Linked DNA regions of Homo sapiens. The protein of the gene in region 1 purifies or fractionates together with the protein of each later gene. This does not show direct contact. Each region holds a gene or a part of one and is shown on either strand. Other genes may lie near its edges.

What was found.
Region 2: the proteins of SDHAF4 (region 1) and LEMD3 fractionate together in Homo sapiens (co-fractionation; one large-scale study listed by BioGRID). This does not show direct contact.
Region 3: the proteins of SDHAF4 (region 1) and GLRX5 purify together in Homo sapiens (affinity purification with mass spectrometry, with the first as the bait; one large-scale study listed by BioGRID). This does not show direct contact.
Region 4: the proteins of SDHAF4 (region 1) and PITRM1 purify together in Homo sapiens (affinity purification with mass spectrometry, with the first as the bait; one large-scale study listed by BioGRID). This does not show direct contact.

Annotation. Positions count from the first base shown.
Region 1 is NC_000006.12:70,571,627-70,579,923, reverse strand, and holds part of SDHAF4 (succinate dehydrogenase assembly factor 4, mitochondrial precursor), read right to left. Parts: intron 511-8,297; coding exon 358-510; intron 1-357. UniProt on the Homo sapiens protein: Plays an essential role in the assembly of succinate dehydrogenase (SDH), an enzyme complex (also referred to as respiratory complex II) that is a component of both the tricarboxylic acid (TCA) cycle and the mitochondrial electron transport chain, and which couples the oxidation of succinate to fumarate with the reduction of ubiquinone (coenzyme Q) to ubiquinol.
Region 2 is NC_000012.12:65,170,853-65,179,149, reverse strand, and holds part of LEMD3 (inner nuclear membrane protein Man1), read right to left. Parts: coding exon 8,032-8,297; intron 1-8,031.
Region 3 is NC_000014.9:95,541,550-95,545,049, forward strand, and holds the end of GLRX5 (glutaredoxin-related protein 5, mitochondrial precursor), read left to right. Parts: intron 1-2,397; coding exon 2,398-2,576; 3' UTR 2,577-3,165; downstream 3,166-3,500.
Region 4 is NC_000010.11:3,163,448-3,171,744, forward strand, and holds part of PITRM1 (presequence protease, mitochondrial isoform 2 precursor), read right to left. Parts: intron 6,760-8,297; coding exon 6,657-6,759; intron 3,596-6,656; coding exon 3,489-3,595; intron 2,934-3,488; coding exon 2,782-2,933; intron 2,081-2,781; coding exon 1,966-2,080; intron 1,888-1,965; coding exon 1,791-1,887; intron 439-1,790; coding exon 278-438; intron 1-277. UniProt on the Homo sapiens protein: Metalloendopeptidase of the mitochondrial matrix that functions in peptide cleavage and degradation rather than in protein processing. Has an ATP-independent activity. Specifically cleaves peptides in the range of 5 to 65 residues.

The DNA.
Region 1 (8,297 bases):
TATACCTCATTATTCACATAAGATCTTTGATACAAATAACATAACCTTCTTTGATACAAATAACATCATTTATTTGTAACAAAGAAGGTCTCAACTTATATATTTTGTTATGTGAATAATGAGGTATAACAAATAAAACAAACACAATCAAATACCTGTCAGAATCTTGAAAATCTTTTTTATTAAGAAATCTACATGTATCGATGGTCAATATGGTGATTTTACTCATTGTTGAAATATGCTTTATTACTACAGAATTTAAGCAATAACAAATTTCTTTCCTTTCACTCATTTTCTCAATAACTAAAACACTTTCCTTGATACTTCAAAAACTGAGAGGTGCTTTATTATACTTACTTTCCAGTGGTTCTTTCTCTAAATGGGAATCCTCTGGTGCATCAAAACGACCTTCTGGTAACTTCGGCTTCTTAAGGGACTGTTTGACAAGTTCAGACTTTCCTCCTTGAGAAGAACTTGTTTTCCTCAGAGAATGACACAGAAGGGGTGATCCTAGAAGAGTGGAGATAATAGAAAAATAGGAGCTGTTCATTTATTCCACTTTAAACATTTATAAAATTTTATTTATTTGTTTTTAGTTTATACATTCACATTTCTCAAAGTTCAAAAAGTACAAAAGGACGCAGAGTGAAAATTCTTCCTTCCTCTCCAGCCATTTCCCTTCCTGGAAGACCACCAGTTTGAAAAGAAGGGCTATGAAATAAATTAGTTAATTGTTATCAATATTGCAGAAACTTATATTAAAACATTAATTCCTATCTGAAGCAATGCCAAAAAACCAGGAGTTCAAATATTAAGAGTAACTTAGTAGTACAAACTTTTCAATGACAATATTTAGTATTCAAATCTCTAAAAGTCAGAAGTGGCTACATTTAAATCCTAATCAAGGTCCTCTTTTCCTGTCAACTAATTTAAGAATACATCAAGTTGGGCATGGTGGCATGCACCCGTAGTCTCAGTTATGCAGGAGGCTGAAGAGGGAGGATTCCTTGAGCCCAGGAGCTCAATTCTAGTCTGGGTAACATAGTGAGACCATGTCTCTAAAAAAAGATTGTTTTATGGGGAAAGAAGTCCCTATTTGATAAATGGTGCTGGGATAGTTGGCAGCTATGTGCAGAACAATGAAACTGGACCCCTATTTGTCACCACATACAAAAATTAACTCGAGATGGATTAAAGATTTAAATGTAAGACCTCAAACTGTAAGAATCCTAGAAGAAAACCTCGGAAACACTCTTCTGGACATTGGTCTTGGGAAATAATTTATGACTAAGTCCTCAAAAGCAACTGCAACAACAACAACAACAACAAATTGACAAATGGGACTTAATTAAACTAAAAAGCTTTTGTAGAGCAAAAGAAACGCTCAACAGAGTAAACATACAACCTACAGGATGGGAGAAAATATTTGCAAACTACACATCTGAGAAAAGTCTCATATCCAGAATCTATAAGGAACTTAAACAACTCAACAAGCAAACAACAACCGCACTAAAAAATGGACAACAGACATGAAGAGACACTTCTCAAAAGAAGACATATAAGCGGCCAACAAACATATTAAAAAATGCTCCACATCACGAATTGGTAGATAAATGCAAATTAAACTCATAATGAGAGACCATGTCACATCAGTCAGAATGGCTATTATTAAAAAGTTAAAAAACAACAGATGCTGGTGAGGCTGTAGAGAAGAGGGAATGCGTATACACTGCTAGTGGGAATGTATCTTAGTTCAGCCACTGTGGAAAACAGTTTGGAGATTTCTCAAAGTACTTAAAACAGAACTATCATTTGACCCAGCAATCCTGTTACTGGTATATACCCAAAAGAAAACTACTCATTTTTCACACCAGAAAGACACATGCGCTTGCATGTTCACTGCAGCACTATTCACAATAGCAAAGACATGGAATCAACCTAGGTGCTCATCAATGGTGGACTGGATAAAGAAAATGTGGTACATATATACCATGGAATACTATGCAACCATAAAAATAATGAAATCATGTCCTTTGCTGCAACATGGATGCAGCTGGAGGCCATTATTCTAAGTGAACTAATGCAGGAACAGAAAACCAAATATTGCATATTCTCACATATAATTTTCTAATTCTATAGAGTGAAACACTGGATACTCAAGAACATAAAGAAGGCAACAATACAAACTGGGTACGACTGTCAGGGAGGGAAGAAGGGGATGCAAGGGTTGAAAAACTAACTTTTAGGTACTATGCTCATTACCTGGGTGATGGGATTATTCGTATCCCAAATCTCAGCATCACACATATACCCAGGTAACAAACCTGCACGTGTACTCCCTGAATCTAAAATAAAACTTCGGATTTTAAAATGTACTGGGTGTCTGCAATGCGTAAATGACATCATTTTCTCTCTAGTTTCTAAAAAGAGTTGAACTTTCTATGCTATAAAAGTTATCCAAACCCTCATTGAGATAATATTCAGCAAGGGCAAAACCACAGGGAAAAAAGTGATCTCAGCGTTAGGGGTTTCCAGCTTCCTAAAGAAATTGCTTTTAGAAGCAGATCAATTTGAGTACAAGTTCTAGCTACACCTCTGTAGCAAACAGAATAATGGCCTCAAAGATAATCAGAATCCAATACCCAGAATCTGTGAATAGGTTTGGTTACACGGTGAAGAATTTTGGTAGCAGACAGAATTAAGGTGGCTAATCAGATGACCTTAAAATAGGGAGGTTATCCAGGATTATGGGGTGGGTCAATGTAACCACAAGGGTCCTTTGAAAGGGAAGACAGGGTTGGAAGACAGACCAGACCCGATGTTGCTGGCTTTGAAGATGGAGGAAGGGGGCAAGCCAAGGAATGTGGGCAGCCTCTAGAAGCTAAAAGAGAGAAGGAAATGTATGTGGCCTCCAGAAGGAACACAGCCCTGCTAACTCCCTGGTTCTAGCTCAGTGAGACCCCTTCCAGACTCCTGACCTCCAAACCTGTAAAATGTGTTAAGCCACCAAATTTGTGGTAATATGTTACAGCAGCAATAGGAAACAAATGCAACCACTTACTAGGTGTTGGATGTTGGTCAAGTTACCCTTTTTGTTTCCTTCCCTGTAAACAGAAAAATTACAGTACCTGTCACATGAGATTGCTGAGTAAACGGGACAATTTATGCCTTTAGGATAGTGATAAACAGTATTTATTTTTAGTTTGATGGAATTATCTGTAAGCTTTTGACAGCATTACATATTAGAATGTTTTTTCATTACACATATTTTTCTCATATTCTAGTCATCACTACATAACCCTACCTTGTTTAAAGAAATAGACACAAACACATATGCATACAAGTGGTTAAGATAAATATGTGTATATCTGTGTATGTGTACACATTGAGCAAGTGCATCAATAACTTGAGCCTAACTCTGGGATGTATAAGTTAATTTGTGTAAGGGTTTCTGGTGAAGAACAGAAAACTGTGTCTTGGGGAAAGCGAGGAGGAGCAAAGTGTAAGTTGGAGAAACTGGTCCCTAATATGACCTTGCAGACTTCTGAAGGACTTTATCTGTAGAAAGAGGGTTTACAAGGAAAAGTTGAAAGACCAGTTTTCTCAAGGGACTCTGAGGCCGTTGGAAACATAAACAGAACTATTTTTGTAGTCAGGTAACAGTGTGACAGAACACGGGGGAAGATAATGCCCCTCATTTCTGTACAGTACAAGGTAAGATGGGACACTGTGCTCCTTGGCACCTGCAGGCTTTACAGCTTTCGACACAAGTGTGTGCACATCAGCCTGCCAGGGGTGTTGGTAGTGAAGCACATACAAGTAGCTTCAAAGGCAGAGCAAAAGAAACAAGGGCGTGTCAGATGAGGAGCTAAGCCCAAGGACCACTCCTGTTAATTCTGCCTATTAAACAGTAGGTGTTGAGCAATAGTAACTGTATTCATGTTAGGATTACATTTTGGCTATCAGCAGACTTTTGACTACCTCGACTACACGGGAAATAGCTGACAAACTTAAAACAAAAGCCTCTTTTAACAACATCATGAAATAACAACCATAAAGCCCATCTCTTCTACTTCAAGGGGTGGTTTGACTTTATCCAAACCTATTTAGAATTGTGTTTACATGGACATAATAGACAAGAAGAAAACCTTCTAAAAGAAGAAATAATAAAAGCAAAAGAATGACTCTCTCTCTCTCACACACACACACACACATATACAAAAACAACACACAACTCAAAACTTTTGTTTCTGGTAATTTGATAAATCAGAAATGCCAAAACTCTACAGCTATAAAACACCTAAAAAGGTAAAACAAAATCAAACATCTTCTAAATCAGAGATAGAACCTTTACGAAAGTAAATAATGATAAACTGAAGACAGTCCAGTGAGGTGAACACAAAGTGAAATGGCTACACTTATTGCGTCTTTTTTTTTTTTTTTGAACAGAGACAAAAAAAAATTAGCCACCACACACAGCTAAGTTTTTGTATTTTCAGTAGACACGGGATTTCACCATGTTGACCAGGAGGGTCCTTTTTTTTTTCAGACAGAGTCTCACTCTGTCCCCCAGGCTGGAGTGCAGTGGCACGATCTCAGCTCATCGCAACCTCCACTTCCAGGGTTCAAGTGATTCTTGTGCCTCAGCCTCCCGAGTAGATGGGATTACAGGCACCCACCAATACGCTGAGCTAATTTTTGTATTTTTAATAGAGATAGGGTTTCGCCATGTTGGCCAGGCTTGTATCGAACTCCTGACCTCAAGTGATCTGCCTGCTTTGGTCTCCCAAAGTATTGCGATTACAGGCATAAGCCATGGTGCAAAGCCTTCTTGTGTCTTTCTTGCCTAGATCGTAGGATACAGAGCTTTCAGGACAGCAGGGAGATGACAGTCTCTTAAACTCAAGCTAAACAGAAAGCGCAGGAGAAGCCAGGACTCAGGGAGGCTCACATACTGAGAAAAGAAAGTGAACTGGAAGATTTTTGTTGTTTTTTGAAACAAGGGTCTTGCTCTGTTGCCCAGTCTTGAGTGTAGTGGCAGAATCATGGCTCACAGTAGTCTTGATCTCCTGGACTCAAACCATCTTCCTGCCTCAGCCTCCTCAGCAGCTGGGACTACAGCCACACAACACCATGCCCAGCTAATTTTATTTTTTGTAGAGATGGGGGTCTCACTATGTTGCCCAGGCTGGTCTTAAACTCCTGAACTCAAGTGATCCTCTTGCCTCCCAAAGTGCTGGGATTATGGGTGTGAGCCACCGCACCCAGCTGAAAGATTTAAAACATAGATAAAAACCACCTGGGGGATTTTGTTAAAATGCAGATTCTGAGTAGTTCTAGGTGGGACTTGTGATTCTTGCATTTTTAACAAGCTCCCAGGTGATGCTTATGATGCTGTTCCAAATAGCAAGGAACTAGAAGAAAGACAGTTAAGGAAGAAAAAGTATCTACTTTAACCTTGGTTCTGAGTGAAGATGTGAAAAAAAGAAGCCCCTCTGAGATTCTGAAGCCACTGACTGACCCACACCCGTGTTTAGGCCTAACTACACACTAGCTGCATCTTCCAAAAATCCCTAAGCATCTTTTTTTTTTTTCTTTTTTTTTGAGATGGAGGCTTGCTCTGTCACCCAGGCTGGAGTGCAGTGGTGTGATCTCAGCTCACTGCAACCTCCACCTCCCGGGATCAAGCGATTCTCCTGCCTCAGCCTCCCAATAGCTGGGATTACAGGCATGTGCCACCATGCCCAGTTAATTTTTGTATTTTTAGTAGAGATGGGGTTTCACCATGTAGGCCAGGCTGGTCTTGAACACCTGACCTCAGGTGACCCACCCGCCTTGGCCTCCCAAAGTGCTGGGATTACAGGCATGAGCCACCGTGCCCAGCCAGCCTAATCATTTTTCATCATCTCTTTTTGCTTAATTACTTTTGGCTTTGCAAGTTTTTTTTAGGCTGGGCACAGTGGCTCACACCTATAATTCCAGCACTTTGGGAGGCCAAATTAGGAAGATTACTTGAGGTCAGGAGTTCCAGACCAGCCTAGCCAATAAGGTGGAACCCCATCTCTACCAAAAATACAAAAAATTAGCTGGGCGTGGTGGTGGGCACCTGTAATCCCAGCTACTTGGGAGGCTGAGGCAAGACAATCGCTTGAACCAGGGCAGCAGAGGTTGCAGTGAGTGAGATCACGCCACTACACTCCAGCCAGGGCAACAGAGCAAGACTCTGTATAAAAAATAAAAAAAAAATAAAAAAAAGAAAAGAAAAGAAAAGAAAAAGAAAAATTAGGCCAAAAAAAAGAAAGAAAAACACGGAAATTCAGAAATAACAAACCTAAAACTCAATAAAAAGGCCAAATAGCTGGCCGGGCATTGTGGCTCACACCTGTAATCCTAGCAATTTGGGAGGCTGAGGCAGGTGGATCACCTGAGGTCAGGGGTTCAAGACCAGCCAGGCCAATCTGGTGAAACTGCGTCTCTACTTGAAATACAAAAATTAGCTGGGTGTGGTGGAGGGTGCCTGTAATCCCAGCTACTCAGGAGGCTGAGGCAGGAGAATCACTTGAACCCAGGAGGCAGAGTTTGCAGTGAGCCAAGACTGTGCCACTGCACTCCAGCCTGGGCGACAGAGTGAGATTCCGTCTCAAAAAAAAAAAAAAAAAGGCCAAATAGCAGAATAAATACAATTGAAAAGAGAATTTATAATCTGGAATAAAGTTGCAAAGAAATTATACAGAAAAACGCATAGAGACAAATGAATAAAAATAATGAAAGATTAGCTGGGCATGACTGCATGACGGTGGTGCCTATAGTCTTAGCTACTTGGCAGAAGGCTGAGGCGGGAGTATGGCTTGTGTCCTGGAGATCAAGGGTGTAATGAGCTATGACTGCACTACTGCTCTCTATCCTGGTGACAGGACAAGACTCTGTCTCTCAGAAAAAAGAAAAAAGTGTTCCCAGAAGTAAAGTGGGAGATAAGAATACAGAGAAAATGCTTTAACATACTGACTATACAAAAGTCTTTATGTTTATCAAAATCAAAATCTTTATAGGTTTTATCAAAATCAAAATCCCACCCAAAACACACATACCTGTGCATGCATGTGCACACACACACAGACCCACGAGTCTGAACAGAGGAATGTAATTTTATCAGTAATTATAAGGGTAAAGAGACTATTAGTCTGCAAAACAACAAAAACCCCCATACAAACAAACCGGAAACAAGCCATATGCTGTTTATGTGAGATGCACCATTTGCATGTTTAAAAAAAAAACCACGGAAAATGGAAAAATAAGATAATAAGAAAAAAATGAATAAAAACATAATTTACAATGTAAAAATAACTTTCAATATAGTCTTCATTTTTTAATTGATAAATATTATATACATTTATGGTGTACAGCATGTTTTCAAATATGTATATATTGTGAAATAGCTAAATCAAGCTAATATATGCCTTAACTCACATATCTATTATTTGTGATGAGAAAATTTAAAATCTACTTTCAGCAATTTTCAAGTATACAATACACTGATATTAACTATAGTCACCATGTTGTACAATAAATATCCTTTGCATAACTTATAACAAAGAAGATCAACAATAAACAAAGGTTGGTGCTCTGAAAAGACTGAAAGTGTTCCAGCCTGGCCAACATGGTGAAACCTCGTCTCTACTAAAAACACAAAAATTAGCCAGACATGGTGGTGCACGCCTGTAATTCCAGCTATGAGGCTGAGGCAGGAGAATCACTAGAACCCGGGAGGTGGAGGTTGCAGTGAGCCAAGATCGCACCACTGCGCTCCAGCCTGGGCGACAGAGCAAGACTTTGTCTCAAAAAAAAAAAAAAAAAAAAAAAAAAAAGACAAAAAAAGACTGAAAGTGTTGTAAAAGCTTTGGTAAGGCTACTATAAAAAAACAAGAGAAAGCAAAATAGATAATATGAGAAAAAGAGAGTACATATTATATGGAGAGCAGAAAATTTTAAAAAAATACCAGAAACTTTATGCCTATATATTGAAACAATACAAAATGGAAACCTTTCCAGAAAAAGTTAACTTACCAAAACTGACTTAAGAGGAAACCTGATAAATATAATAATAACCATTATAGAAGTTAAACAAGTAATTTAAAGTCTTCCCTCGAAGAGAAGAACAGGTCTAGACAGTTTTGCAGGTGAGTTGTAACAAACCCTCAAGGAACAAATAATTCCAATCTTAAACAAAATCTAACAAAGAAGGGAAAAGAGTGAGTAGAATCCCCAGTACATTATATGAGGCTAGAATAACCTTAATA
Region 2 (8,297 bases), on another chromosome or scaffold:
CAAATCAAAAGATCACTTTCCCTACCAGTTTTGAGACTGCAAATATTTTAAAAATTAGAAATAGTTTTAATATTGTATTATTGTTCTATGTATTATATATTATAGTTTGCTTCATAGCAGATGCCCCCTCCCCCTTAATTAATCTAAAACCTTAAGGATAAATAGTTCCATGTGATTCATAATTGTTGAATGAATACAACTTTTCCTAAAGTTGTTAGGTTTCATAGATTATTCCTGCCACTTCTAGGATTTTATGAATCTATACTTGTCACAGTTTTCTGAAAATAAAGACAATAATAGTAGAGAACATATATCAAGTCCTTATTTATACATATTAAAAGGCAATCTAGAAGAACAGTTAAGAGCCACTGTCTGAGTTCAAATACTGCCGCTTCACTTACTAGCTACATGACCCTGGGCGAGTTACTTCTCAGTGTCTCCATTTACTTATAAAATGGGATAAGTACCTACCTCATAAGGATTAAATAATAATTGTTTAGCTCAGTGCCTGGAACACAGTTAATGCTACGTAAGGGTTAGTTATTATTATTACTATGTGCCATGTATGAGTTTTACTTTACACACATTACTTCATTCTCATTTAACCTATTTTTCATATGAGGATATTGAGGTTTACAATGGCTAAGCAACTTGCCTTAGTGAAAAAAAGCTAGTAAGTGGAAGGGCCAATATTGAAGCCCAGGTTCTCTGATAGCTATGCCAGTGTATCCTCAAACTAGTCTCCGTGGATATATCTGTAGAGATTCACAAGTTTTTCCTCATTATTTTTAATTTAAATCATTCTAGGGAAAATTTTCAAATGAAAAACATTTTCATAGAGTAGACTTTAATTTCTGAAATCATCAAACTGGTATATGCAAATCCCTGGCATTCACGGGAATATTCTCATAGATCTAGGATTTTTTTTTTTTTCTTACAAAGCAGTCAACTCGTAAAACTTCAAACATAACATGGAGCTTTCATTCTTCAAGAATGAGAGAATAGGCCGGCTGCTATGGCTGACACCTGTAATCTCAGCACTTTGGGAGGCGAAGGTGACAGGATCGCTTGAGCCCAGGAGTTCAAGACCAGCCTGGACAACAAAGTGAGATCCTGTCTCAACAAAAAATACAAAAAATTTGCCAGATGTGGTGATGCAGATCTATAGTCCCAGCTACTCAGGAGGCTGAGCTGTGAGGATTGCTTGAGTCCTGGGAGGTTGAGGCTGCAGTAAGCCATGATCACACCACTGCAATCCAACCTGGGTGACACAGCAAGACCCTGTCTCATATTGAAAAAAAAAAAAAAAGAATGAGAGCAACAGCTATTTTTCAAAATCCTTATTCCCCATATTCATTTTAGATACCAAGTTCGGGACCTTTTGGCTAGTCTACTTTAAGAAGTAAAAATATTTTTTAAACGACAATGACATTAAAACATGTTACTTCTTTGTAACAACTGGTCTTGATTTTAAAGAAAACAACAACACATTAAAAAAACAAACATTTAAAAGTATTCCCTTAGTAAACAGTACTAGTACTCACATTCAGCACCAGTCTCTCATCTTTACTCCAATTCTGTATCTACAAGAGCCTACAAGAATTTTTCACTTGAACAACTCAAATAATAAGCCCCAAGTAAACTCATTTTCCCTAGACCACTTTTCCCCAAACAAGATCCCTCTTCCACATCTCTAATTCCTCCAATGATATTATCATTCTCTCAGTCATCCAGGCTCATGGCCAGAATAATCTTTGACTCCTATCTGTCTCTTATTCTCTATACTCAAAACCATATGTCTTTCTTCAAATGAATTTCATTCATAGGCCCAACTCCATTCCCACTTATCCACCTCCTTCAGGTGTCATCACCCTACTCCTTCCCTCCAACCCTATCACTGTCTAAACCATCACCTGTTTATCCTTCTTAAAGGACCAATTCGATCATGCTTGTCCTCTGCTTTATAACCTCCATGAATTGCCATTACTCAACCTACAGAATAAAATCCAAATGTTGAATTTAGAACTTTTGATCATGTAAGACTGATCATTTGAGAATTTACAGTGAATTCTCCCCTTTTATAAAAGTGTGTAACCACATAATATCCTGTATGTTTCTTAGCCATTTCCTATTACTGTTATTAGTGGTGTGGAGGCTTCTACAGAAATAAGATTTCTTTTATATATCCTTACCAGATACTAAGTAGATAACCAATTACCGAGTTAGATACTACCAGTTAACAGTGCATATATCCTGAGTACCTGATATGTGATCATTTATTCAACAGATATTTGCTGAATAATGAATCTGTGCTGAAGATACTAATGTGACTTCCATCTACTAAGAGATTTCCATGTGCCAGACAACACTAGTTTAGATGCATTATCTCACTTAATACAAGTCATCCTCAGATAGTATTATCAATCTCATTTTTAGTATGAGGCAATTATATCTCTAGTATAGTCTACTTTAAAAAGTAGAGCCAAAATCAGAACTGAGTAAAAAGTTTGTACTCTTTAACACTGTATTCTACTCCTATAGAAATATTACTCTAAAGAAAGGAGCTGTCATCTATTTGGCATGGTGGACACACAAATATAATACTTTGTCCTAAATACTATGAAGGATGCAATTAATGTCTTATTTGAGCACAAAATGATGGGCCAAACTCTAGGGTAAAAAGATGGAGAGTCAGAGATATCTGGAGATGACATGTTTAAGAATGAATCACAGTTACAAAATAAAGAAACATTCCCAAAAAAGGGGATAACCTGTGCAAAGGTAGAAAAGCACAAATTTCATGACTTACTCAGAAAACAGCAAACAGTTCAGTTTTCTAGAAAGTAAGTGTGATAAGGGAGACTGGTAGAAAGGGCAAGCATAGTCAGATCATGAACAGTTTAGCCAACGAGTTTAGATTTTGGCCAATAACTAAGAGAAAGCCATTGTGTAATTTTAAGCAAGAGGGAATGATCACATTTGTGCTTTAGAAACGCTGCTCTGTACTGACAAATGGACTGGAAGAGCTACAGCCTAGAAGCAGGGACACCATTTTAGGTTACTGAAAGAGTTCAGGCAAGAGACTAACCTAGAACAGTGGCGAGGGACAGAAAAAGATTGATTCAAAAGATATAGAGGAAACAGAACTACAGGACTTGGTATCCAATTAGGTTGGGGGTTTGTAGGAAGGTGAGGGAAAGGAAAGAATCTAGGTAAATCCAAGGTTTCTCTCTTGAGCTCTGTCTGGGTGGATGGAAGCACCATTAACTAAACAGGGAGGAGGAGCAAAAACAAGGTAAATATAAAGAAAATGTCAGATGGTATTGGTACATACTTCTAGTATACCCAAAAGATGTCTAGTAAACAAATAGGTATACCTAGATCTCAGGAGAAATCCAAGGTAAAAATACAAAACTGGAAGATAATGACAAGGAGAGTGAATGAAACTTCCTAGAGAAATGTGTGCAAAAGGAGACAGCCAAAGATCAAGTTGTGGAGACCACCAATATTTAAAACAGGCAGACAGAAGTATGAAAACTAGGAGAGAGTAGTGATACAGAAGCTTAGAAAGGAGAAAGTTTCATGAAGAAGGGAGTTGTCAATGCACTAAATGTACCAAAGAGATGAGGATTTGAAAATTGAGTAACTGGTGACTTGAAGAAGAGAGGTAGCAGAGGAATGGCTGGTAAAGAAAGCTAAACTAGACAGGGTTGAGTGAATGGCAGGGAAGAAAATAGAGGCAGAAAGTTTGAGAAGAGTAACAACTAGAGAAGAAAAGAGCACAGAAGAGCAACATTTTTAGAATGGTAGAGATTTTAGTATTTTTATAGGATGAGAAAGGGACTAGTGGAAAATGAGATTTTAAAATTATACCTCTGTACTTAAAATTAGTATATGGAAAAGTTACCCATGATACAAAAAACAAGTTGCAGAATATGTATGCTATAATATCACTTAAAATTCTGACTCCTTTCAACGGCCCTCAAGGCGTTTAGGTCTTTATGATCTGGCCCATACCTACCTTTAACTTCATGGTATGCCATTTTCCCCTTCATTCATTATGTCCCAGCAACACTGGCCATTCTTTTTGGTCCTTCAACACACAAGCCTGTTTTTGCCTCAGGAATTCTGCACTTGCTGATACTTCTGCCAGAATGCTCTTCTCCTGATCAAAGGCTAGTTCCCTCAAGTCATTCATATCTCAGTTCAAACATCCTTCCTCAGAGAGGTCTGCCTACCTTTATGTAATATTGCATATCTCTTCACCTCAGCCCCCAAAAGTTACCAGCAATACCTTGTGTTAGCAACTACCATTATGTGAAATTCTTATTTACTTGTCCATTCCCCTCCTAGAAATGTAAGCTCTGTAACAGAGATTTCATCTTCCACATATGCAACATATTGTTCACCACATATCCCTGCTGCTTAAAATAATACCGGGCACATAGTAGACACTCTGCTGTTGAATGAAAATCTGTACACACACACATACACACACACACACAGAGATGTATTTACATGAAAAATACTAAGAAAGGTCAGAAAGGATCTAATACTTGAACTTATTTATATGGGGGCAGCATGAGGCTAGGAAGAGAGGCATACAATAACCATTCACTGTTTCCTTCATCTCTATTCAAACTTTCTGCAGAAGTCATGTCTTTTGTAATTGAAAAAAAAATTAATAATGATCATACGAGCCTAGGACAGTCAATCTATTCTGCTTCTCTATTTTCGTTTGGTGGGCTATAATGATCTAATCACCTGTGGAACAAGCGACTACTCTGATTGCAGGTTGATCCTTGAGTTGTTTTGGTATGGCAGTTCAAAGTTAAAATCTTAAATCTTGGAGCTGGAAAGAGCTTAGGGATCATCTAATCCAACCCCCTAGTTTTATAGATGAGGAAGAAGAGACTTATAGCAATTTAATTAATAAAAAAATAGGGCATTGATGAAAAAGTTTCAAAGACTATATGATTAAGAACAATTTAAAAGACTAATCTACTATATGTTATATGTAATTTAAATAATAAAAGCCTCCTAAAAGTTACTCTCACATATAACCTACAATCTTCTGGTGAAAACTATTACTCAAAGTAAACGTATTTCCCTAAGCATACTATTTGACCAATGAACTCTACAGTTAAAGCATCATAATATAACAAAGGATATGGAATACGTGTATGTATGTGTGTGTATATATATATGGAGTGAAAATATTATTCACTCTTGATACCCTAACACTGTTAGGTGTGCAGACTAACTGAAGTTAGCAGGCACTTCTTTCCACAGGGTAGACATACAATACATCAAGTGTATCATACATTTAAGGATTCATTATACTTTGATTCAAATTTCTGTATTAATTTCTATAATGTATATTTAATGGGATAAAAATCAAATGTTAGGTTAAGAAATGCACTATACTATGTCATTTATAGAAATGTCTTAACTATTTATCTCTCTAGATATACTGTAGTTTACCAGGAATACAACAAATTTTGTCCAAATTTCTGAATAATACCACCTTATGTTTAACACACTGTCTCACCTGACCCTCACAAACAAACCCAGAGACAGCAGATATTATTACTTCCATTTAGTATATAAAAATGAGGCTCAGAGATTAAGGAGCTTGACCACAGTCATTCAGACAAGTCCTAGAACCTAGATCCTCTACTTCTTAGCCATTGTTCTTTCCAACGCCCAGATTACTTCACATTTACCATTTACTAAAATGTAAATATAATTTCCTTCCTTCCTTATCAGTGAAGGTGAAGAGTACCAAAATCCTAGCATTCCTATCCTATTCTACCTGAACTTTTAGTACACCACATTAGTCATTCATCTTAACACTGATGAGAAAGATGTGAAAGTCACCTTAACTGAGAATTGTGCTTATCAATAATTCTGTATGAAATCCTACCAAATAGTCAATTACTTTCTTAATCATAATAAAGGTACCCACTTATTTAGAAAGCTCTCTACAAACAATAACCAAAACAGTGTTAAAATGGTCTTTCTAGTTGGAAATAAAATCTGAAACCAAATCTTAGCCCTACTACTAACTGTTCAACACTCAGTGCATTTCTTAACTTAGTATCATCCTCATCCAAAAATGAGGATACCACCACCTGCTTCTGTGAGTTGCTGGGAAGATTAGATGGTACAATAGGTGTAAAGCAATTAGCTCTTAGAAAATGGCCAGATCTGCTAACATGGTGAAACCCTGTCTCTACTAAAAATACAAAAAAAATTTAGCCAGGTGTGGCGGCACGCGCATGTAGTCCCAGCTACTTGGGAGGCTGAGGCAGGAGAATCACTTGAACCCAGGAGGCGGAGGTTGCAGTGACCAGAGATTGTGCCACTGCACTCCAGCCTAGCGACAGAGCTAGACTCTGTCTAAAAAAAAAAAAAAAGAAAAGAAAAAGGCCAGATCTTATAGTTGTTAGAGACACAGATGCAGATAGCTACTGCTGATAGGTAATGTCATTTAATTTATGTGAACTTTTACTTGTTTAACTTCTAGTGTGCCCTTATTTTTTTTCTCCCAAATATTTGGGGCAGGACACAATACACTCATGCTCCCAGGGAATAAACTAAAGTGAGAGCTGAATTTCATTCTTGTTTCAACCCCTGTAATTAAGCAACAGAGTAAAAATCTATTATTTGACTGTCTCGGAATTGGCTATATCTAAATCTAAGCTTACATTATTTTGACTCCTACTCTTTATCTGAGTTGGCTAACTGCATCTTTCACTCTATTTTGAAATAAAACTAATAAGCCAATTTTATAAATACAAATAAAAATACAGTGAATTCATCTTGGGTGAAAAGAGTAGGAAGCCTTCAGGGAGAATGCAGAGAGGGACCTAACACTGAGAAATTATGTATTCAGAAGTCCATTTTGTCCTAATTTACTTTCTCTTTTAATCTTCACAAACATTCTAGTCAATAGAGGCCTCATCTTATAGATTAGGAAAGTTCAGAAGCTTTAACTCTGACTCTCTCCCCTTTGCTCAAGGTGCTTAACCACTCTAACCTACAAGAAGGCTCTTGCTCAACTCAAGGCCTTAATCTCTGCTCAGAATGGTCTACTGTTTCTCCACAAGGCTGTCTCCTTCTGCTTCAGGTCTCACCTCAAATAGTACCTCCTCCGTTCAATCTAAAGTAGTGTACACCTACGTCAGTGTAGTCTGGTAAATTTTTTTAAAAAAGGAAAAAAAATAAAGTTGTGTACGCCAATTACTCATCTTTATTTCCTTCAGAGAACACAAAATGGTCTGTATTCATCTTCTTTTTGTGTTTAAGGGCAGAGATACTTTGATTATGACAATGAACACACCTGCCTACAGTCATTTAGCAAGTAAATAGTAGGACCTGGAAACCAATCCAAGGAAATCTGACTGCAAGCTCCTGCACTGCCCTACCACTACTTTTTGTACAGATGATAGGGAAAGTGCTTTGGGCTGGGAAATAAATTAAGAGGTGTGCCTTGCTGCTTTTTTATATTCATTCACTATAAAGAAATTATACATACAGTTAATACCACAAAATATTTAATCCGAATTTATGCATACAGTTAATATTATAAAATAATTCGAATTTCAAGAGCTATTACATTGCCTATTAGAATCACAACTCAATTTGGAAAAACACTACATTTATAATGTGCCTTATCCTAATACTTCAAATTTGTTAAGTAACTGGCATCTGCGCAAATAGTCTTTCAGGGCTAAAAGAGAATTGTCACATATACAAATGAGTTTTACTAACAAGCTTATAATATTCTTTTAAAAATTGTTTTGAATTTCACAATACATCATGCAGAAAACTTTTAAAACCAGCCATATGACATCATTTCGATAATGGTGTTCTTTAAGAAAGATGACACATGCACGCACTGTTGCGTTTTTGCTGTTAAACCATATTCTTGCAGGTAAGTCACTTCATGTAAAACGCTAAGCGCGGCTAAAGCGGACCACTAACAACATTCTCTTTGTTACCTTACCCACAGGATTTAATACTTACTGCTGAGTTCTCCATCCTCAGATACTCCTGTCCCTCTCATTCCTAGGTAAGTCAGTCCCAGTATTAGGAAAAATAAGCAGGCAGCAGTTAAGAGAAACATCGACAAGTAGTGGGCACTGAAACTCCCTGTTGGGGACACCTCCTCCCGTTTAAATTGCTGGAGAAGTTCCTCTTCGGGTTCGGAAAGCTTCGGTTTGTTGTATGTGTTTTTCAGGTAGGTATGATTGGAGCCCGTATGATTGGCGTGATTGATCCTGAGTGAACTA
Region 3 (3,500 bases), on another chromosome or scaffold:
GGCTCATGAGAAGTTAGTATCACTTGCATGTGGCTGTGTGTGTTGGGTGTTGAGAATGTCTGAAAGCCTGCTTGTTTTGATAATTTTGGTGGTAAGGATTCTGGGGGTCTCCCCTTCTCTCGTAGTCAGGACATATGATCAACAGCAACATAAAGTTTAATCAATGAGGCAAGCCCAATGCTTCGATTGAGTGTGATACTATAAAAGTGATTGATGAAAAGCAATTTTACTTTAAAAACATGTATTTTTTGGGTAAAACATGTAGTTTTGGGTAGTTCTCAGGCAGCAAACATTTCCATTTTTGGTGTGTTTCAGAAATTATAGACATCCATCAAAATAAATCAGTAAAAATTGATTATCATGGAAAGCTTCACACAATATATTATTCATTGAAACAAAACAGGTCGTTCATGCACATAAATGATTCATTTGTATAAAAGGTATTTAAGAAAGTTGAAGATAATGAAAAGAAGCTCACGTTTACTTTAAATATTTCTTAATTCTCGCACCCAGCTCTCAGTCATCATAAAGGTAAAAGTTTTGTAATCGGCATCATTGTAAAAAGTGAGTTTTGATAGACTTTGTATTTGAGGACAGAGTTTGAAGAAAGTAAAAAAACACACAAATTATGCTAGTTGTTTTTGTTGATGGAGCATCAAACATCACCATGATGAACAACTTGAATTCATCAGGGTATTCTACTATGTCTAGATATTTGGCATTATAAAGACATTTTGATGATTAATGGAATTTACCCTTTATTGGCAGCTGCCAAAGAGCTAGCTGTTGTTTCTTTACTAGCACCCAGAGTGGCTGAGAGGTGTCCTTTTGGAGGCCTAGAGCAATGTAACCCTTTCTTAATATGTGAAGTCTGGAGAAGGAAGATAAAGCCCTTGGTTCAGGGGCTTTCTTTAGGGCTGTCATTTAGAGCAAAGTCAGTTTTTTTAATAAGGCAATAACTTTTAAGAAAAAAATAAATAGTATATTGGGACTTGTGATATAACTGAAATCAGTAATTTTATTTGGAAAATGTTTGATAATAAATTATAGGGTATCAAGAGCAAGTTTTTGTATTTTTAGTTTGTTTACATAAAAATCGATTTGTGTAAACTGTACTGGACTTGAACAATCTGTTGACTTTTCCGTTTTGTTTATCCATATGCTCATTTTGGCCATTTAAAAATATCTATCTATGTAAATATAAAAGTGTCACATAAGTGTTAGTTATTATATGCCATGCTTTGACCATCTTCGTTTTTAACATGACCAATACAGGCTTTTTAATGGCCGACTATGTTTTTGAAAGCACAGTCATCTCAACATACAAGTAGAAAAGGAAGTAGACTGATGAAGAGGAATGTTAAGAGTAATCTTTTATGTCTTAAGATTGAAGCCACATTTCTTTCTTACCATTTTGTTACAGTCATCATCCTTGTGGCTCAGAATTGAACAGAGTAGTTGCACAGCTGCGCTGTCACAGAGTGTCCCTCATCTCATGTGTGTCCTCAGAGCCATTTGCACACAGGACTGATCACATGCATGCTGGTTGGTTTCTTGGCTGCTGTGAGCGCTTAAGAGCAGAGCGGGTCTCACTCCCCCACCCCTCAGCCCTGGACAGGGACCTTGCTGAGCTCTGGGCCTTCATTAGACTCACCAGTCACTTCGGGTTCTGCACAGAGCCTCATCATCCACTCCACAGAGAGCCCATCACAGTGGCTGGATAGATGGGAACTGACAACCCATAGCTGTGGGACAGGGATTTTTCCCTGGGTAAAAGTAATTGTTAAAAATTAAAAAAAAAAAAAACTCAACAACTCATCATCTCGAGGAGAAGTGACTGACGGCCTGCACCAACTTAGACAGTCACAGTCATGAAAAGTGCACAGGTGGGATTGCCCGAGTTGGCCATGAATTACCGTGATGGATCCATTTGGAAATGAAGTTGGTTGTGACATTTCTTCAAGTTTTGTTTCGCTTGAAGCTTGACTGGTAGATGGAGAATTTTGGCCTTATGTATCTTATGTGACTTGCATTACCCAGTCCAGTCCTCTGCCATTAATCTAAGGTCCGCAATGTATCAGGTATTTTACTGAGAATCTTGCTTACCTAATTCTCACAAAAAAAAAAACCTTGGGAGATGAGGGTGGAAACAGGATGAGAGGTCAGGTGACTTGTCTGAGGGCTGACGGTTTGTAATTGGAAGAGTCAGGGCCTAACCACTGGTCTCTTTGACACAAAAACTCATGCTCTTAGTGGCAAGCACAGTGTTCTCAAGATTGGGGGAAGCCAGGGAGGGACAGTGGGTTGTCTGCTACTAGTGGGTCAAAATTACATATTTAGTCATGAATGGTTCAGCTTTTACCATTTAAATAACAAATAAATGTTCTTTCTCCATAGGCATTAAAGACTATTCCAACTGGCCCACCATCCCGCAAGTGTACCTCAATGGCGAGTTTGTAGGGGGCTGTGACATTCTTCTGCAGATGCACCAGAATGGGGACTTGGTGGAAGAACTGAAAAAGCTGGGGATCCACTCCGCCCTTTTAGATGAAAAGAAAGACCAAGACTCCAAGTGAGGGCGGCCAAGTCCTCGCTGAGCAGAGAGGGAGCCGTTCATGTCAGAGACTCACTGCCAGAAAAGCCTTACCCATTTTGGTTTTCACTATTGAGACCGCAACTGCTTGCACTGATCATTTTGGTTCGTGAGCAGTTGGTGATTTTAGTTGGTCTGGTGTTCGGGCTAAGAATATTTTATTGTGGACTTAATTACAACCACTGCACTGTAATGATTCAATGCTGTATTATGATATTGCTGTAAACAAAATTCATTCTTATATTGTCACTTATTCTTTGCCTGATTCAGAAGTTAAATAGGAGCTTTGGAATCATTATTCATGACCCCTCTGCAAATGTGTCAGTCTCCAAAGAGAGTATCTCCCCCCAAATTTTGTGTAGCTTCTTTTGTTATGGAAAATGGTGAACAAAAAAAGAAACTGTGATAACTGGGGCGTTGTTTTTTAAAATAAACTCCAGCACAGGGATGCTGTGCATGCCTGAGTTGATTCCGAAGTGCATATGTCTGTAAGGATTTGGAGTGCCTGCAGTGTTTTATGTGTGGGAAGTAAGGGTGAGTCTCATATTCTTCTATTAAATTTGCCACAAGAATTGCCGTCGAGCCCTGGTCTACTTTCTGGGGGAAGCAGCTGTTTGGATGGTGAGTCAACTGTGCAGCTGGAGGCGTGGGTGGGCTGGAGGGAGCAGAGGTGGGTGAGGCCGGAGGAGGCGGCCCCACCTGCCTATCTCTGGAGCCCTGTGCTTGGCACACTGCTACAGTTAGATAGGGAGACATCGTCAACAGTCCACCGAGCTAGGGGATTTAATGAGTATTTTACTTCTTAAAAAGTGGGGACTTTCTAAAAGAGGACATAATTTGGAATTGTGGCAGAGATTCTCCCAGTGTCTGGTGTCTTTATAAGACCTTTCCATGAGTTCTGCATCCC
Region 4 (8,297 bases), on another chromosome or scaffold:
GATGTGAGGCAACAGGCTGCGGGGCCAGGACCCTCCTCTGGGGGACTCTAAACGCTGTGTTTGTAACCACCATGCTGAGCCTCCTGAGGGCTATCATTGTAAATGTCCAAAATCAATGTCCAAGTAAGATAGGCAAACTTAGGCCAAGAATCTTACCTAGACTTAGATATTTCTTAAGCATTGCTAAATGTGAGAGAAGCCATGCCATAAACTGTTAAGAACACAAACAAGTCAACTTTTCACAATCCACCATCAAACTTTTCCAACAAAATATTACCTAGCATTGCTTGGGTGATAGTGAGTGGCATGAAACTGCTTAAGCTGCTCCCATGTAAGCTCCGGGATGCACAGTGGGTCACCCCCGGAGACCACTGAGTACGTGTGGTCAGGAAGAAGTCTGTTCTGAAGGTGCTGGGAGAATATCCTCTCATTGTCTGTCTTGAAACGTAAAATAAATAAATCATAAGTATACATGTAAAATAATACACACGTTACATTACTTACAATATAGCCAATTGATCACATTCTGGTGCATACACCTGTAATACTTTGCAAATAAAGCTGTTCTAATGGTTTAAAAAAAAAAAAAAAACACCCACGCAGGCATTGTTTAACACGGTATTCAATCATTCATCACCCACGCACAGGACCCAAGGATTGAGAAGAACAATGGATTTTTTGATGTGTGGTGCAACAAACGCATAGCTGAGGGCTGTAAATCGGGATGGATCAGTCGGTCTGCCCACCAGCCGTGAGGGAAGTGGGGAGAAGCTGTCACCCCAACTTGAGTTCAAGAAGACTCCTTGGAAGAAAAGACCACCAAATTGAGAATGAAAAGGTAAGAAATAGTTCACCAGCCGAGAGGAGCTACGGGAATCAGAGAGCAGGCCACCCATGAGCCTCAGGGACACCAGGACAGACAGGTTGTCCAAGTCACAAAGGGACATGAAGACATGGGCCCAGGACAGCAGCTCTTAATCCAAAATGGTCTCAAGAATCCTTTACACTCTGAAAAATTAACCCATTTATGCCTGAGGTTGCAATTTTTTTGTAAAAAATCAGACCTTGGCGATGACCTTGAGCTGTAGGACATAAATAACTCCCACAAGCTTAGGGTGCCAATAATGGAACACTAGGCATAAATGCGTTTTAATGAGGACCCAAACAGCTTTTGATTATGTGGGCGTTTTTGCCTGTGTAGGTGCCTGTGTGTGTTTATATAATTTTTCTATATTCTAAATTAAAGCTGAGACATTTAAAAAATACTTATTCATTAAGGTAAGCCATCATTACATGTTGATATAAATATTTTTGAAAAATACTTCTCATAACAAAGTAAAAAACTGATTAGAGTGGTGCTGTGTTGCCTTTTTTGCAAATCTCTGTAGCGTCTGGCTCAGAGGTGAAGCTGGACTCCCCCATTTGCTCTGTATGCAGCTCGCTGTGTGTCACACACCTTGCCATGCAGCCTCTAGAAAGTACACCGTGTACTTGGGCAAGAATGAATGAAAAGACACTGTCTTGGTAGTGGTATGAAAATAGCTTTTATCTCACAGACTTGCTGCAGATCACATACCAGGGGTCCCCAGACATGGTCTGAGACCTGCTGGGAAGAACAGCAGCCTGGCCCTGCTACCCCGACTTCTGCTCACAGCACTGACCCCAGCTAATTCAAGAATGTATCACCTATAATGAGAATATTAAATAAAATCTTCCAGATGTGTCTATATCATGATATTGTACATGGGAAAGGTAAGCTGAACACAACATAAAAAAGGAAGAAAACTTACAAACGCTCCCTTCATCTCATTAAAGACGACTCCTTTAAAGACCAAGGGCGTCTGGGGGTCGCTCGGATTCTCATGTTCCAGCCGCCATCCTTCCTGCCTGAGGACAAATCATTATAAGCTGATAGTGACTCAAATACTAAAGTCTGTATCAACTAGTTAATCATTCATGACATACCAGAAATCCAGCTCGCGTAAACATGGGAAAAAGGTGGCATCCAAATACACCGAGAGGAGATTCTGAAAGTCCTTGGGATTTTGTGTGGAAAATGGATACAGAGTATAATCACTAGCTGGGTACAAATGAAAAGTGAAATTGTAAAATATAACAGATTTCTACTAAAATTATTGACTCTCAAGACTCATTCCCCCTTTGTCCTAGGACAGTAAGCTGTAGCTATTCTTGGGATGGGGCAGTGGCCCCATGCTCTGGTCCCTGGCCTCAGCAGCTGTCCCAGCTCATAACCCCAAGTGCCGGCTTTCCCATCCCGTCTCAGGATCTGCACTCGACGGGCACCAGGGCTTTCTTCAGCGAATATCTAAACTCTCTCAAGTTTCTCCAGAGACTTTCATACATCTACAAAGATGACCTCATTCTGTAACAGCATGGATTTAACCCGCTCTTCAATGTCACTCCCCCACAGAATGCACTGTTCATCGTCACCCTATCCACTATCGTCAGTCTTACTAAAAGTCAAACATCAACATTAGTAGTAACTCTGGCATTGTAGCGATATCTCCAAGAGAAAATTGTTTTGAACTTTTCTGGGAAAAGTTCACATATGTTTTCTTAAAACGCTAGTTTTTACAATCTCGCTACCATGTGGCTTTCCTGAAGGATTAAATTTCTAATGTCCTTCAACTAGAGAGAGGTAAAAATTTTTCTAGAACATGAATTGCCCACTCCCCTCATTCCTTCTCAGAAACTAACTGAATTCCAGTGGGTGTGCCTGGCAAACCCAAAAGCAGTTTCTGTTCAGGATGCTGGTCTTACCTGTGAAGGCGTTCATGAACGTGGAGAGGGACCGGTTCAACATTTTGAAGAAAGGGTCTCTGCACGGATATTTCTGAGACCCACAAAGGACGGTATGCTCAAGAATGTGAGGAACACCAGTACTGTCCATGGGAGTAGTACGGAACTGCACGCTAGGGAAGGAGAATGACCAGAACGCAAAAGGTTCAGCTTAGTGCTGCGGACACAGTTCCCAGATGCATCATCACCTCAGGCTACTAGAAATCATCATTCTGACACCACAATCCTCCAGCACAGGGTTTTCCAACTATAATGTAAATCATTGACTCAGACTGTAAAATTGTATTTTGATGAGATTATAAGTCAGTGTAAACTTTTCCTTATTTTTCAAGATGCTCTGTCAATAAAAATACTAGTGAGATGATATTTTAAACCACGTAATGTATAGCCATGTTTTAAATCAAGCTTGTCCAACCCGCAGCCTGCAGCCCGCATGCTCAGGATGGCTTGAAATGCAGCCCAACACAAATTCATACACTTTCTTAAAACATTGAGGGGTCCTTTATTTATTATTTTTAGCTCATCAGCTGTCCTTAGTGTTAGTGTATTTTATGCGTGGCCTAAGACAGTTGTTCTTCTTCCATTGTGGCACAGGGAAGCCAAAAGAATGGACATTCCTGATTTAAATAAAAACATTCAAGACCATGTTCTTACAATGCACCACACACCTGAACAGATTATTCGTGTCTTCTCTGGCCAGGTGTAAATACCTGGCTCCTGTGTCATCATGGGTGAGCTTCACTGCAGTCAGGAACAGCTCGGGAACAGATGTCACCTGAGTTAACAAGAAAAACACGACCAGTTAAACTTAGACAAAATGGCCTTTGAAATGGTTATGTTCGACACACTGAGAAAACTGGCTTTTCTGCCTGAAATTAGATGATGCCGGGAAGGCAGTATTTCAGAGCTGGAGAGAAGAGAACCATCTTGTCCAGGTCCCTTATCCTACAAACAAGGAAAGACAGACCTAAAAAAGGCAGATGAGAATATGTGTGTGTGTGTATAGAAAGAGAGAGAGAGCGAGCGAGCGAGCGAGCGCGAGAGCGCACGCGCTTACTACTGGCTAGGTATTTTAGATTTTTTTATTTTTTAAATTTTTTATTCTTTTTTTGGCTAGGCATTTTCTAATCATGTCACATATAATCCTGTGAGGGAGGTATTCTCATACTCATTTACAGACGAAAAAACCGAGGCTCAGGGTGATGAAATAAGCTGCCTAAATCACAGAGCCAGGATTCACCCTGGTGTCTGCCCTTCCCATGGTACCATGCTGCACCTAAGTAACAGAGCGCCCTTTCCAATGTCTGCTGAGTGTCTCCTGCTTTTGTGTGCTGTGCCTCAGTAACACAGCGCCCCTTCCAATGTCTGCTGAGTGTCTCCTGCTTTTGTGTGCTGCGCCTCAGTAACACAGCACCCCTTCCAACGTTGGCTGTGTGTCTGTTTCTGTGCATATCATCTCCTGTAGTGCGCAGAACGGGCCTGCAAGGAGGGGAAATGCTAGAGTGGGCTAGCCTGCGACAGCAGGGAGAGGCTCTAGGATCAGCCTTTGCTTCTCTTAGTTTAGGATGGGTTCTCGGTGGTAGCTAGAAGCACAAAGCTGTGGCTTCCAGAACAGCTGGAGGGGCCGGGAGGATAGAAATGCCCACAAGACAGACGAAAGACTCCCCACTCCTGGGGCGGCGTGGAAGGTCATCTCCTACTTTAGGTAAGCCTCCTGGTAAGTGACCATACTCCTCGGTATGAAAGAAACTGTCTTCTCTTCCAGTCATGCCAGCCGGCCCTCTCCCTCAATCACACACCACGTCCCTGTGATCACCACACCACTCACCACCCCCTCCTGCCAGGTGCCATGAGTCACCTGGCCAAGCGCACACAGTAAGTCGCTGGCCAAGGTCAGACCTCGGGTCTCCTCAGCCCAATCTAGGGAGCCTGCCACGCAACAGTCATGCATAAAGCAGACCACTATGACCTGCATCATCTACCGCCGCGAAATTACTTCTGTTTCCAAGCTCACTGTACTTTGTAACAGATGATCAATGCTTTTGAAGTCAGCAGATACAGTGAGATGTTTGCTTTCTAATAATATATAGCTTTAATAATAATAGCTTTCATGGTAGCTATTTCTCAAACAAGAATCATGACTTATCGTAAGTTTCTATGGCTGGACACAGTGGCTCACACCTATAATCCCAGCACTTTGGAAGGCCAAGGTGATATGGTTTGGCTGTGTCCCCACCCAAATCTCATCTTGAATTGTAGTTTCCATAATCCCCACATGTTGTGGGAGGGACCTGGTGGGAGGTAATTGAATCAAGAGGGCGGTTTCCTCCATGTTATTCTCGTGACAGTGAGCACGTTCTCATGAGAGCTGACGGTTTTATAAGGGGCTTCCCCCTTCACTTGATCCTCATTCTCTCCCCTGCCGCCCTGTGAAGAGATGCCTTCCACCACGATTGTGTTTCCTGAGGCCTCCCCAGCCATGCAGAACTGTGAGTCAATTAAACCTCTTCACTTTTTAGCTCATACTTTATAAATTACCCAGTCTTGGGTATTTCTTCATAGCAGTGTGAGACTAGACTAATACACAAGCAAAAGGATTGCTTGAACCCAGGAGTTTGAGACCAGTCTAGGCAACAAAGTTTCCATCTACACACACACACACACACACACACACACACACACACACACACACACACACAATTAGCCAGGCGTGGTGGCACCTTGTCCCAGCTACTTGGCAAGAGGATCGCTTGAGCCCAGGAGTTCGAGGCTGCAGTGAGCCAAGATCATACCACCACACTCCAGCCTGGGCGACAGGGTGAGTCCCAGTCTCAAAAGTAAATACGTTTCTATAAAATTTGAGAAATAAAGGAGGAGAATCTACCGCTGTGGGTGAGGCCCTTATTAACAGTAACCTGTACCATAAACCCAAGTGTCTTTGCCTGGCCTTTGCAGGATTTCACAAACGCTCCAAGTCTTTTCATGAGTCCCATGCCTGGACCTTGTCTGGCGCACCCTAGTCACTGCCCTGGCTCCCTTGCTGGAGCCCTGACCGAAGGCAGCCACGTTCTCACACCACCCTCTCCAGGAGCTCTTCCCTCTGCCCCCAGCAGCAGCAGCTCCCACTCCTCCTCCTGCCCTTGTCCTTGGCCCTCCGCGTGGCGTCCACCATGTGCCTCCGGTCACAGCCGCAGCAGTCTTTCTAGACAGTAAGCTGTTTGTCTTTCACGTTTGCTATAACATCAAGCATAGCACAAAGCCAACAGCTGGCCAAATACATGAAGCGTGTCATTTTCAGTTACCATGCTAAATAGAAACAATGCAAAAGGTTTAGGCAAAATAACAAAACAAAAACCAAATGAATCTATTTTAATACAGACCCAAGTAAGTACAGGTCCACAATTGCTTCTTTATCATTCTGAAACCCGAATGGCTCAGAAAACTGAAAGGTTCTGCGGACGTTTAGAGCAAGCTATTTGATGGCAAAACCTGACTAAACAGATCAGGGCAGTGAGTCTTCATGCTCATGCTCAGTGAAACATCAGGTTTGGCTGCAGAAACGCTAGTGTGTCTGATTACAGAGACCCAGCTGGAAGTGTTACTCTCTAAAATCTCACAAGAACCAGGCTTTGCGGGATTCCAGGAAGGGACTGGGGCTCATTTCACTCACAAGCTCTGTTCAGCCGAGTAGCTGCCACACAGCAGGAGCTGGGCCAGGGCCTTGGGACACAAGGACAAAAACGCTAGTCTCCGCCCTGAAGGGCTCCGTACATAGGCCAGAAGCCGCACCTGCAATGTATGTGGATTTATAAGGAGGTGCCGAGGACGACCCATACCTGGTTTACGGTGAATCCATGGATCTTGTCTCCTAGTTTATACTGCAGAGCCCTCTCACAAGCCCGGTTACTGTTCCATCGCCACGCTCTGTGGTGTGCATGTCTAGATTAAAAGTCATCTAAGTTAGATGAGTTGCAGGAAAAGTATCTGGCTAACATTATTCAGCCACATAGTGAAAATACTCTCATGTAATAAAGATTATTAAAGAAAAATTAAATATTGCATCTTCCAAAGTCTTGCACATTCCAGAAAACTGATTTCTGGTAAGGTCCTTTCCATTTTAATGATCTTTATCTTAACTAAAGCTTCAATGTTGGAAACCTTTTCTTTACACTTGTTCACAAATAACTATAATACAATTACAGTTTAAATTCCCCTTGTTTAAGAGACAACTCTTAAACAAAAGGGCTTCTTTCCTTCACAGAATCCTCAAAAGCCTTCACAGTATACCAAGAAATTCACACTACAGTTAAATCCCATTACATGCCTACCGAATTGCTGAAAACTTAAAAAGCCTAATATTACCGGGAACTCTCATACACTGCTACAGGGAGTACAAAGTGGAATAACTTTGGAAAAGCACTTGGCATTCTTTAGAAAGGCTGAAGAGGCCGGGCGTGGTGGCTTACGTCTGTAATCCCAGCACTTTGGGAGGCCTGGGTGGGCGGATCACCTGAGGTCAGGAGTTCGAGACCAGCCTGGCCAAAAATTAGCCTGATGTGGTGGCAGGTGCCTGTAGTCCCAGATACTTGGGAGGCTGAGGCAGGAGAATCGCTTGAACCCGGGAAGTGGAGGCTGCAGTGGGCCGAGATCACGCCACTGCACTCCAGCCTGGGTGACAGAGCAAGACTGTCGGAAAAAAAAGAAAAAAATGCTGAAGATTGGAAATCCATTCACCTCTTGGTCTCTATCGTCCACACCTTACACTGCGGCCCCAGCACTCACAGACAAAAATGTCAGCACGAACCCTGACAGTCCCAAACTCAACTCACCCGGAGGTGTATCGACAGAGAATGGATAAAGTGCGGACTAATCGTTCAATTAAAAAAAAAAAAAAAAAAAAAAAAAAAAAAAAAAAAACCTTACCAATATAAGGGCCTACAGTGGCATGTAACAAAGATATGGGTCACATAACGTGAAACAAAAGATACACATGATACAGTATTATCCTAAACAGGTATTATTCAAATAGGTAACAAGACATTGTCAGAACGCATAAAAATGGTAAAATATTAAAAAAAAAAAAAGCAAGGACATTTCTGTATGTTATGACCGTGATAATCTAAGAGGGAGGGAGAGAGTTACGAGCAGTTAGGGGAATCTTCAACTTGGTCACAGGGACACTAATTTTCTTTTTTGAGACAGATCTCACTCTGTTGCCCAGGCTGGAGTGCAGCGGTGCAATCTCGACTCACTGCAACCTCCACCTCCCGGGTTCAAGCAATTCTGTCTCAGCCTCCTGAGTGGCTGGGACTACAAGTGCTCACTACTACGCCCAGCTAATTTTTGTATTTTTAGTAGAGACAGTTTCACCATGTCGGCCAGGCTGGTCTTGAACTCCTGACCTCAAGTGGTCTGCCCGCCTTGGCCTCCCAACATGCTGGGATTACAGGTGTGAGCCACCGCGCCCAACCTATTTC